Linked DNA regions of Homo sapiens: region 1 is linked to region 2. The links come from fine-mapping of genetic effects on gene expression. A gene starts in region 2. The other region holds a variant in brackets. All regions are shown on one strand. Distances are from middle to middle. Region 1 overlaps ART4 (ADP-ribosyltransferase 4 (inactive) (Dombrock blood group)). Region 2 holds the start of C12orf60 (chromosome 12 open reading frame 60).

Evidence for each region.
Region 1: its variant is fine-mapped to the expression of C12orf60 in thyroid (GTEx, PIP above 0.99). The same link has a PIP of 0.9 or more in atrial appendage, breast, left ventricle, lung, subcutaneous fat and sun-exposed skin.

What each region holds. Positions count from the first base shown.
Region 1 is chr12:14,830,790-14,836,175 of GRCh38, reverse strand. All of the region lies in intron 2 of ART4 (ADP-ribosyltransferase 4 (inactive) (Dombrock blood group)), which reads left to right. Among named protein-coding and RNA genes, the nearest start is that of ART4, 10 kb to the left of the region's middle. The variant C/T (reference allele first, on the strand shown) is at 2,403.
Region 2 is chr12:14,801,432-14,806,817 of GRCh38, reverse strand. C12orf60 (chromosome 12 open reading frame 60) reads right to left here and starts at 3,148. Exons shown (of 2, transcript NM_175874.4): 1 at 3,067-3,148. WBP11 (WW domain binding protein 11) reads left to right here and starts at 3,340. Exons shown (of 12, transcript NM_016312.3): 1 at 3,340-3,466. It overlaps SMCO3 (single-pass membrane protein with coiled-coil domains 3), which reads left to right. Exons shown (of 2, transcript NM_001013698.2): 2 at 122-2,168. The coding sequence starts at 138. The coding sequence ends at 815. RefSeq lists an enhancer at 2,805-3,044.

The DNA.
Region 1 (5,386 bases), 29 kb before region 2:
TGAATCTTCTACCTGTGGAATTGTGAAGAAGGAAAAAGAAATTCATGCTAGTTTTGCTGCCACACTTCAAACTTTATCATTGATGATATATATATATATGTATATACATACATACACATATGAAAATAACATAGGGTTCACTACTACCTGTAGTTTCAGGAATCCACTGAATGTCTTGGAATGTATCCACTAAGGATAAAGGGACACTACTGAATACAGTCTTGGACAGGACACAATATCTATCTCTTATGATTTAAAAAATGTTTGATTGCCAGCCAGGTGCAGTGGCTCACACCTATAATCTCAGCACTTTGGGAGGTCGAGGCAGGTGGATCACAAGGTCAGGAGATCGAGACCAGCCTGACCAACATGGTGAAAGCCGTCTCTACTAAAAATACAAAAATTAGCCAGGAGTGGTGGCACGAGCCTGTAATCCCAGCTACTCAGGAGGCTGAGGCAGTAGAATCACTTGAACCCAGGAGGCAGAGGTGGCAGTGAGCCAAGATCGCGCCACTGCACTCCAGCCTGGGCAACAGAATGAGACTCCGTCAAAAAAAAAAAAAAAGTTTGATTGCCTTCAGAATGTTTTCAGTTATTCGCTACAGTGTTGTTTGTTTGTTTCTTTGTTTCTTTGTTTTTCTCTCAATCAGTAAGCGAAGGAACATCAGAAAGGTCCTTAAAGTGATTTATTTTAACTGATAAGTAGTACTTACCCCAACATTCTGGAGCAGTATTGGACTGAGCCATACATGAACAATAAGAGGAAGGAGGTAGTGTGTCTTTCTTATCTGGGATCCTTAACAGGGAGGAAGTAAGATCAGTGGACTCTCCCCAGACCCAACTTTCTAGATAGCTACCATTTCCCACTTCACTGCTCCACTAACCCCAGCCTAGGGAATTCACAGATGGTGTTCTGGAACACTGATATCTAACTCCTCACGAAACTGTAATCTTCTCTGGACACTATTTCTCATTCTTTCAGCTTCGTTTTGTTTCATGAGCAGGAGCCACAAGCTATTCTGTGTCCCCAGAAGTCCCTATAAGCCAAGTGAATTATGTTTTCTCTCCTGTTCCCTCTCAATCTGACAGACGTGATACTGGAAAGACCACTTGAAGACCTTTAAAATTACCCAGCAGCATACTGTAATTCTCCCAAAGAAGAGACAGTATATTTAAGAGCATAGCTTCTCCAGTCCTTCAATTTATGCTAAAATCAGTCCTGTTAGCATGTAACTCAAGTTTAAAGAGTTTCCAGGAATCTGTTGCTTTTAGAGAGACAAGAGATCAAATTAATAGAATTATACTATTTAAGGAAGTAAATTTGCAAAAGGAAAAATTGTCATTCTAAACTAACAGCTTTCCTCTCTAATTATTCCATCACCCCTCACATGACCTGTACTGGTTGCCATAGAAACAGGTGTCTTCATGCCCATTGGAAGACTCAAAATATGTTAACAGAATGTTAGTTATTTGCCCTTAAATCTTGCTTCTTTCAGCAAAATAACCTATGCCAAAAATCTGTAGACACACAAATACATGCTCTGTTCTATATCATTGGATTCACAAAGAACAGGGATTTATTTGTTAAAATGTTTCACATAATCAAAATTCTTAACATGTTTCTAGAGAAATATAGGCAATTGTTTGTAGTCAGCCTGGTTTTACATGTAAACTTCACTTTTTAAAAACCTGTACGATTCTAGTGGGGAGAAAATGAATGAATGCATGTAAAATCTCTTAGAATAGTATCTGACAAATGTTAAGTACTCAAAACTTTTAAGATACTATTATCATTATTATTATTTATTTTATTAGCTTTCTATTTTGCCTGTTTTCTTTTACTCTGGGCTTCAATTATCTAAAATTAGTTTACCCTATTTGTGGCATCACAATGACCTTGAAGTAGAGTGTCTGTCTCAGATAAATGGATGAAAGAATGAGTCATTGAATAAATCTGGGAGACCACACGGCATGGTGGAAAGTGAATAAACTTTGGAGCCAGAAAGATTTGGGTATATGTTAGTAGCTAGGTGACCTTGTGCAAATGACTTAACCTCTGAGCCTGTTTCTTCATTTATAAAATGGAAGTGATACTCATCTTGTGGGAATGTTGTGATAGCATTGGTGTCTCTGCCTCCTTTCAAACACAACTGAGAAACTCTGGGAAAGTACTTTGCACATGGAAGTGGGATAATGGTTTAATGGCACAAGCATGTGCTTCAGTGAAATTGATAGTAAGAAGAGAAACAAAGGAAGAGGCAGAAGGAATAACGCTTTTCATTTTCGGGTGCTAAGTTTTTGCTAGGTAATATTCTACAATATTAACACTCTTGCTCCTTGCATTTTGACAGAAAGAGGCTATAGATAGCATTTGCCTCAAACACTAGACTTGGTATACTGCA[C/T]GTCAGCTTTACCTTTTTCTGTTTAAGGACTATTTACTTCTGAACAGTCTGATAAAATTCAGATTCAGACTTCATGAAATAAAAGTTATAATCATTATGTATTTCTTCCAGACTTTATACCCTAAGGCAGAGATGACCAAAATCAGGTTATAATACACTGATAAAATGATATTTGTTTGGCAGTTTAGTTTACAAAACGCTTGGACACCCATTATCTGTTTAGTTTTCACAATCACCCTGTAAGTCAGGTTATTGACTCCGCTGTACTGATGTGAATGCTGAGATTCAGAGAGCTTAAGGGATTTGCGTAAAATTATTCATAGTTTACAAATGACAAAAATAGGATCCTTCCCCATGTTTTCTAATAAGAATTCCAGGACAATATTCTCCATAGACTGGTTTCAGGGGATTCATCCATTCTTCAACAAATATAGCTGAGAAACTACCGTTAGTTTTAAGCTTCTTGACTATGACTGTTTACATTATAAATCAGTTCACACACACATAAATATGCAAATACACACATATTCATAAAATACAACAGTTACCCTTTTCATAGGCAGTGTTAATGCTAGTGTTTCTATTCTAACTTATTTTATTACATTATTAAACAATGATGGCTATGACCTCCTAAGCTGATGTCACAACCCATCAATTGATCACATTCTCCAATTTTAAAAATCCTGTAAAAAGGTAAAGAGAAAATTAAAAACTTTGAAGAGATAGTTGAATAGAAAACTAAAGACAACTACAAAAGTAAAAAAAATGTGAGGTATCCTCAAATAAAACTTTAGTTTGTAATTAATGCACAGCTGTCTTTCATTTATTTTCCTAAATATATGGTCCATGTAACAACAATAATAATAATAATGCCAGGTAGAAATGATAATGGCCATAAAAGAGGTAGAGAAAAAGTATCAACAGAGTTAGTTACTTTAACCTGACATAATAAAATCAAAAGGAAGCTATTTTTAACATCCTAATTATTATAAAGAGGACTTATGAATTTTTTTGAAGAATGACTATGATTGCAAGACAGTAGTGTCTATGTGTTTGTCTCTTATTTGGGTATCATCATAATAGCAGCTATTATTCATTCATTCAACAAATCAGTATTTATTGGTCACTTGTTATTTGCTAGGCACTATCCTAGGTGCAGGGAAGGAAATAGGTGAAAATCCCTGCCCTTGGGGATTTACATTCTATTGATGTGAGGCAGAAATAAACAAAATAAATAAGTAAATTATGTCGTAGTTAGTAGGTGGTACATACTAAGATGAAAAATAAAGCAGAGTAAGGAGACAGTGAACACTATGGGAAGGAGTGGCAATATTAAACTGGGTGATCAGGGGAAACTTCACTGAGAGGGTGACATTTGAGCCAAGGTTGAAAGGAGATGAGAGAGCCAGTCCCATGTATATCTGAGGAAAGAGCATTCCAGGAAGAAAGCACAGCAAGTGCAAATGTCTCAAGTAAGAAGCAACAGCAAGGATGCCAGTGTACGGGAATGAGAGAAAAATAATAGAAAGCGAAGACAGAAGATGATGTAGATTCGATCACATAGGACCTTGAAGGCAGTTGTAAGGACTTTGGCTTTTCCTCTTAGATAGGATACCACTGAGAGGTTTTGGGCAGAAAACATAGAAGATTGTGTCAAAACTGACCTAGCAGCCCAGTAGAGGATAAACTGTAATGAGGTAAGCAGAGAAACCAAGTAGGGGGCTATTTCAATCATTCAGTTGAGAGATGAAGGTGGTAGAGTGGAGGCAGTAAGGTTTGACCAGATTCAGAGCCAAAAGGAGGTCCTGACACACTGGAAGTGAAAAGTGAGGGAAAAAGAAGAGTGAAGAATGACTCCAAGGTTTGGCTAGAGTAACTGAAAGGATGGAGGTGGCACTCACTGAGATGGAGAAGCCTGGGGATGGAGTAGATTTAAGAGCAGGAGTTTGGTATTTGACATGTTATATCTGAGCTGTGCAATAGTAACCCAAGCAGAGATGTTGAGTGGACAGTTGATGCACAAGTGTAGAATTCCGAGTGACCCAGGATGGAAAGATAAATTTGAGGTCAGTGGGTTATGGGTGGTATTTAAAGCCAAGAGACTGGATGAGCTCCCCACAAAGGTGTATAAATAAAGGAGAGAAAATGTCCAAGGATCAAACCTCAGGACACTCCCATTTTAAAAGGTCAAGTACAAAGAAGATGGAGAGGCCAGGTGTGATGGCTCACACCTATAATCCCAGCACTCTGGGAGGCCGAGGTAGGTGGACTGCTTGAGCTCAGGAGTTCGAGACCAGCCTGGGCAATGTGGTAAAACCCCGTCTCTACCAAAAATACAAAAAAAAAATAGCCAGGCATGGTGGTGTGCACCTGTAGACCCAGCTACTTGGGAGGCTGAGGTGGAAGAATCACTTGAGCTGATGTTGCAGTGAGCAGAGATCACACTGCTGTACTCTAGCCTGGGTGACAGAGCAAGACCCATCTCAAAAAAAAAAAAAAAAATGGAGAAGGAATGGCCAGTGAGGGAGGAGAAAATTGATAGAGTTGGTGTCCTAAGAGCAAAATGAAGAGTAAGTATCAAGGAGGATGGAGTGATTCACTACCATAAATATGGTTGATAGGTCAAATACAGTGAGGACTGAGAATTGACATTACATTCCAGGAAGCTCAACATATAATCTCTTAAATCAGACTCTCTAGGTTAAATACTGGCTCTGTCACTTACTGTGTGGCCTAACAGAGACCCTTAAGCTCTCTAAATACTGGGAAAGGGTGGGACTGGAAATCCTTGTGATCTTTAGCCTCAGTGAAGAGGAAAAAAAAACAAAAATCGTTTGAGAACCATTCTAATGATTGACCTGCTAAAGTGGTATTAAGGCTTCCTAAGTCTCTGTAGGGATTCATATAATTTGATTTTAACACAAACTTTGACAAAAGTTTAGAAAGACATATGCTCTTAATTTTCCTTGCCAACTCTTATTGGT
Region 2 (5,386 bases):
ATCCTTAGACAGCATCTTGCTTCTTTGCTATGCATGAAGAAAAAGATTTCCTAGTCCCTTCTACACAGTTAGCAGACATTTTTTAAGACTTTCAGTAAAAATTTACCATTTTATTTTTCAGCGATCATATTGGAAATATGGCCCAAAGTGACTTCCTTTACCCAGAGAACCCAAAAAGGCGGGAAGAAGTAAATCGTCTTCACCAGCAGCTTCTTGATTGCTTATCTGACAGCTTCGATGTCACCAATAAGCTGACTGAGGTTCTAAATATGCACTTGGGGTGCAGGCTGGCCTCCATTGAGATGAAAAGAGATGGGACCATCAAAGAAAACTGTGACCTCATCATCCAAGCCATTATGAAAATCCAAAAGGAATTGCAGAAGGTTGATGAAGCACTAAAAGATAAGCTAGAGCCAACCCTCTATAGAAAACTTCAGGATATTAAGGAAAAGGAAACAGACAAAATTGCAATAGTGCAAAAGGTTATTTCGGTCATCCTGGGAGAAGCTACATCTGCAGCCAGTGCAGTCGCTGTTAAACTTGTGGGCTCAAATGTCACAACTGGCATAATTAACAAGTTGGTCACTGTGTTAGCTCAAATTGGTGCTTCTCTCCTTGGTAGTATTGGAGTTGCTGTTCTTGGCCTTGGCATAGATATGATTGTCCGTGCCATCCTGGGAGCAGTGGAAAAAACACAGCTTCAAGCAGCCATCAAAAGTTATGAGAAGCATCTGGTGGAGTTCAAATCAGCCTCAGAAAAATATAATCATGCCATTACTGAGGTCATCAATACAGTGAAACACCAAATGAAATGAACAGCCGTTTTATTTGCCACTGAAGTGTTTTTCTGCTTCCTTTTCAGTAACAGTGTTTGCTTCTTTGATTAGGTTCATTTTCTATAGGCTTCCAATATGGACTTAAATAAGATAAACAATTTGGAGAGGGAAACTGGAGATGCCAAGACTAGATGACTAGATGAGTTTTGAGTCAACAATGCCTGGATCAGCTGATGCTAGACCCTGTGAGGTAAAAAAATTTTCTCCCTGGATGTTTTCACACCCTGCTCTACCAGATCAACATTGGGGTAAATGCTATCGTAGAGTAGCAAGTATAGGGGTTACTTTTCTCTTTTCTAATTTCAGTAAAATTCTTAAATTTCACATTGAATGCAGAGACTTTCATTTCTACCACCAGCTTCAAACATCATTTAGTTATAAGGGGACATACTCAGTAACTTCTGCCTAGACACAAACTCTAGGCCTTCGAATGAGACAGAAATACTACCATATTTTTGACCATCAGAGTAAATCTGGTTTTCTGTAAACTAGAAGAGACTGAAAAATGGTTTGTAACAATGTGCTTCAATTAGGACAGGAAGCTGATCTGTAAACGTCTACTGATTACACAATGTAAACCGGATGGATTTGAAAATGGTAAAAATCAAAACTAAAAACATCAAGGTCCTGTTTCAGTCACTGCAATCAACCCTGACCAACTGTGATAATTAAATATCGCTCAAGTGAATGTTCAAACACTGAAACATTTAGAAGACAAGAAAGCAAAACACAGCTACACATATTGCATTTAGGATGCAGAATAGAAGGTCACTACTCAAAGCATTTGTCATTTAAAAGAAAGTCATAATTTATTATAAGCTTTCAGAAAAAAGAATATAATTTCATTTTCAACACTAGCAAAAAGGAGGCAGCTGCCTTTGCTACATGACGCATTAGGTGGGCCATTTCACTAATTACCTGATTTTAGAAAACGCCAAAGGCTATGGAAGCCTATTAATGGTTCCGCTGAATCTCTGCAGATGTGTTTGTTTTCTAAATCCTTTGCCAACCAATAATTCCCATGAGGACTCTTTTAGTCTATACTGACAAAATTATTAATATGCTGTTGATGCCAGACTGTGTTTGTTATAGTTGATTCTCCCATCCAAGTACAAGAAATGTATTGAAATAAAAACTGCTCAGCATATCTTAAAAATAGTAGCTACATATAAAATTTTAGCTACATGAAAGACTTTAATATTTCCAACATACACTGTTTTCTCTTTCTCTTCTTGCATTGTTTTTCAAAACGAGTTGCAAAACTATGATCACTAATGTGTTAGGAAAGAAAAAAAACTAGTTGCAAAACATTACAACTTAGCTCACCTTCGCAGTTCAAGATTATTTTCTTTTTTATGTACTACCTGGTTTATCAGCTTTAACCTACAATATCTCGTCATTGCTTTCTGACACTCAAATTCAGTCTAAAATCAAATCAAGAATTTCCTAACACAAAGGTAAGTTTAGGTATAGGACCGATCTTATACCTTCAAGGGCAGTTTAAAGATTCTGCTAAAAATTAGTATGTATCTCCATCAATATTTTGAAATATTTATAACTGGTGGTAAGAATAGCCTTCCTACATGGGATAGTCAGGTTAAGATTAGAAATAACCAAGCGTATCCTCTAAGATAGTTTTTTAAATGTTTAAACTTACCTTTAAGGGAAATAAGTGGGGGCTGACTCACGGAAAGAGGGGATAGAAGGTAGGGAAAGGGCGAAGGCTAGAGTTAAGTGAAGAATCCCGTACGTAGAGTGACATCATAGAGGACTTTTGGCTGGTGAAAAGACCAGTCGGGAATATAGCCAATATATATCAACCTTGCCACTCATATAACTTAAAACCGACTGCATATGTATCCCCGTATTTCTTCTTCAAAACACTACTAACAAATAATAAATCACCGCCCATATAAGCAATCTGCGACTCTAATACGGGTGCTAATTTATTTGTTCAGGTGGTCTACAAACGTTCTGTTCTGCCTGTCTATTAAATTTCCACACGTACTAGGCGCTCACATGGGATAACCTGATGCTTACAAAGCGGATTAAACTCAGTGGCAAATGTTATCTGGGTATTCGTTTACACACGGAGACACCCCTAAAGGATCGCACCTGCTTGGGTCATAAGAAACAGAAAAATGCAAAAACTAAGGTAATTCCAAAAGACAGAAAACGCAGAACGCTTCTTTATCTGCAGAATGTACCGTTCTCGGACGGCTCAACGTACCAGGCTCCCAGCAACTAAGTCAAGATGCCTCCAACTCGAGAGACAGGACCGTCAGCCACTCAGTTAGCAGCTATCTTCTTCTAATTCCTATTGTACTAGATGAGCGCAATGAGGCGGGCTCTTAGCCGACAACCAACCAATTGAGTATTGTATGGAACCGGAAGAGACTCTGGTCCTGGAATTCTTGGGTATTCTCTATGGTTCCAGGGTCAAGCGGCGCTAAGAGAAGGCGGGACAGAGGAATGGGAAATGACGTGAGGAGTGCGGAGGGGCGCGAGGTTTCAAGATGGCGGTAGCTGAGGGGTTGACCGAGAGACCCAGTTGAAGGCCTTTACGAAGTGAAAGAGGCCGGGAGTCGCCCCCTACCCGCTTCTCGTAGTCCTGGGAGCACAGCAGAAGTGTGAGTGTATTGAATTGATTTACTACTCTTCCTCACCTCTTTCGTCCCTTCCACGTCCCGCGCAGCGGCTTGGGGGACACCCAGCCCCTTTGCCCCGCTCCTCCTCTCCCTGGTTGAGGTCTCCCTGTTGCGGACTGGGCTATTCCTGGGCCTGGGGTGGCGCGGCGACCAGTGGTTGCGCGGTTGGCATCGCCCGGGTCGGTTGGGGCCGCTTCTTACGCACGTTGATTAGTAGCCTTAGGTTTGACGTCTTGTACCTCGAGTCATGGTCGGTCAGCCGTCGCTATGGTTTCGTCAGTTGCTGGTGTTGCCTCCTTTGGTGAACCTGGACCCTATCCCATTGAAGCTTCTTTGGCTGTTTAGAGTTATCCAACGCTTATTTGGCTTGATTTTCCAGTCGCCTCCGCTTGTAGACAAAAAACTAATCTGCAGACTTAAGCTCCAGTGTCTTCCGTAAAATTCTCTGTAATTCGTATCCGTTGTGTTTCATTTGTGGGGGAGGAGATTCAGAACATGAGCCTGAGGAAACTTGAGAAAGGAAAGCACAAAAAACGCAGGCAATCAAAGATGGGAGAGCTTGTATATGTACTGATTTTGCTTGTTTTCCTCCTTCCCTACCTCCTACTCCCTGCTGCTCTCCCACCCCCCTAACCCCCCCATCCCCAGTTTTTCTTAGAAGGAAACCACTTGACAGGGTGTATGGTAGCTAGGCCAGGAATATGGATCCATTATAAAGATTTTAGTTAAGTAGTGAGTCAAACATCACAGGATATTTTATTTGTAATCTCATTGTATCATCAGAGCTTTGTTATAAAGTAATTGATGTCCCCATTTTTTAGATGAGGAAGCTAAAAATCAGAGCCTTTGATACCGCTGTCTTGAAGTAATTGCCACCAGAACAGCTGTGAAACATCTGGCTTTCTGAAACATCTGGCTTTCGGGGCAGTTGGACACTTGGTGAAAGAGACATTAACTGTAATAAACTGGGCTGACAAAATCTTCCCTTTCTTACCTTTAAAAAGTGTCTACTTGCAAAAGGAAGCAAATTTGTCCGCCTTTATTACTGGAAAGACTGCGCTTCAAAAAATTAAGCCCCATTATTTTGGAATAAGAGGAAGAAGTCATGTAATAGGGTACTGTGTTAATAAAAGTTTTAGCTTACAAAATATTTTTTCCTCAAACAAAAATAAGTATTCCCTTTAATTACCTTAAGAAATATATATTGGGAGTCAGGTCTTAGTAAGAAAAATATGTGTCTTAATATTTAAGTTTTGGGGAGCTCTCAGTATAGCACTAATTTCAAATATTTGCATTTTTAGTTGTGTTTTGAACTCTTGAGAGTCAAGCATTATATCTGAACTAGAACTGAATCTGAATTAAATATGCTTAAATTAATGAGTTTTTAGTGTCTTAGAAGTATTGAGAATGTACAGCATACATGCCAAGAAAAACCATGGAGAGAGGCAAAGGTGAGGTATGTGTTTTGAGCCTAGATCCATTACCCCCATTCCCTTCTTATTCTTCTTTTACAATTACATGTTAATAAAGGGAGGTTATAGAAGAAGGACTAATGAATTCTGATGTTCATGGTTTGTGCCATATCGTTAAAGCATTTTCTAGTTGTTTTTATCAGTTGACAAAGTCAGTGCTGTGATCCATAAGAAAAAAGCTAAACTGATGACTTGAGGATATTCAAAGTGGTCTTCACACTCATCACATTTCTGAAGAATGATAGAGATCTAAATTTTCATGGTCAAGAAAGGTGATGCCATCTTTCTTGGACATTAAAGTCAAAACTAAGGAAAGAACAGTCTCACAGAATTTCTAATTAAAGGAATTTTTTTTCAGAGATTGGTAGGGACTAGAAAAAGGAAGAAATACATTTAGGAGATATAAGCTATTTCTTTGTCTTCACCTTCA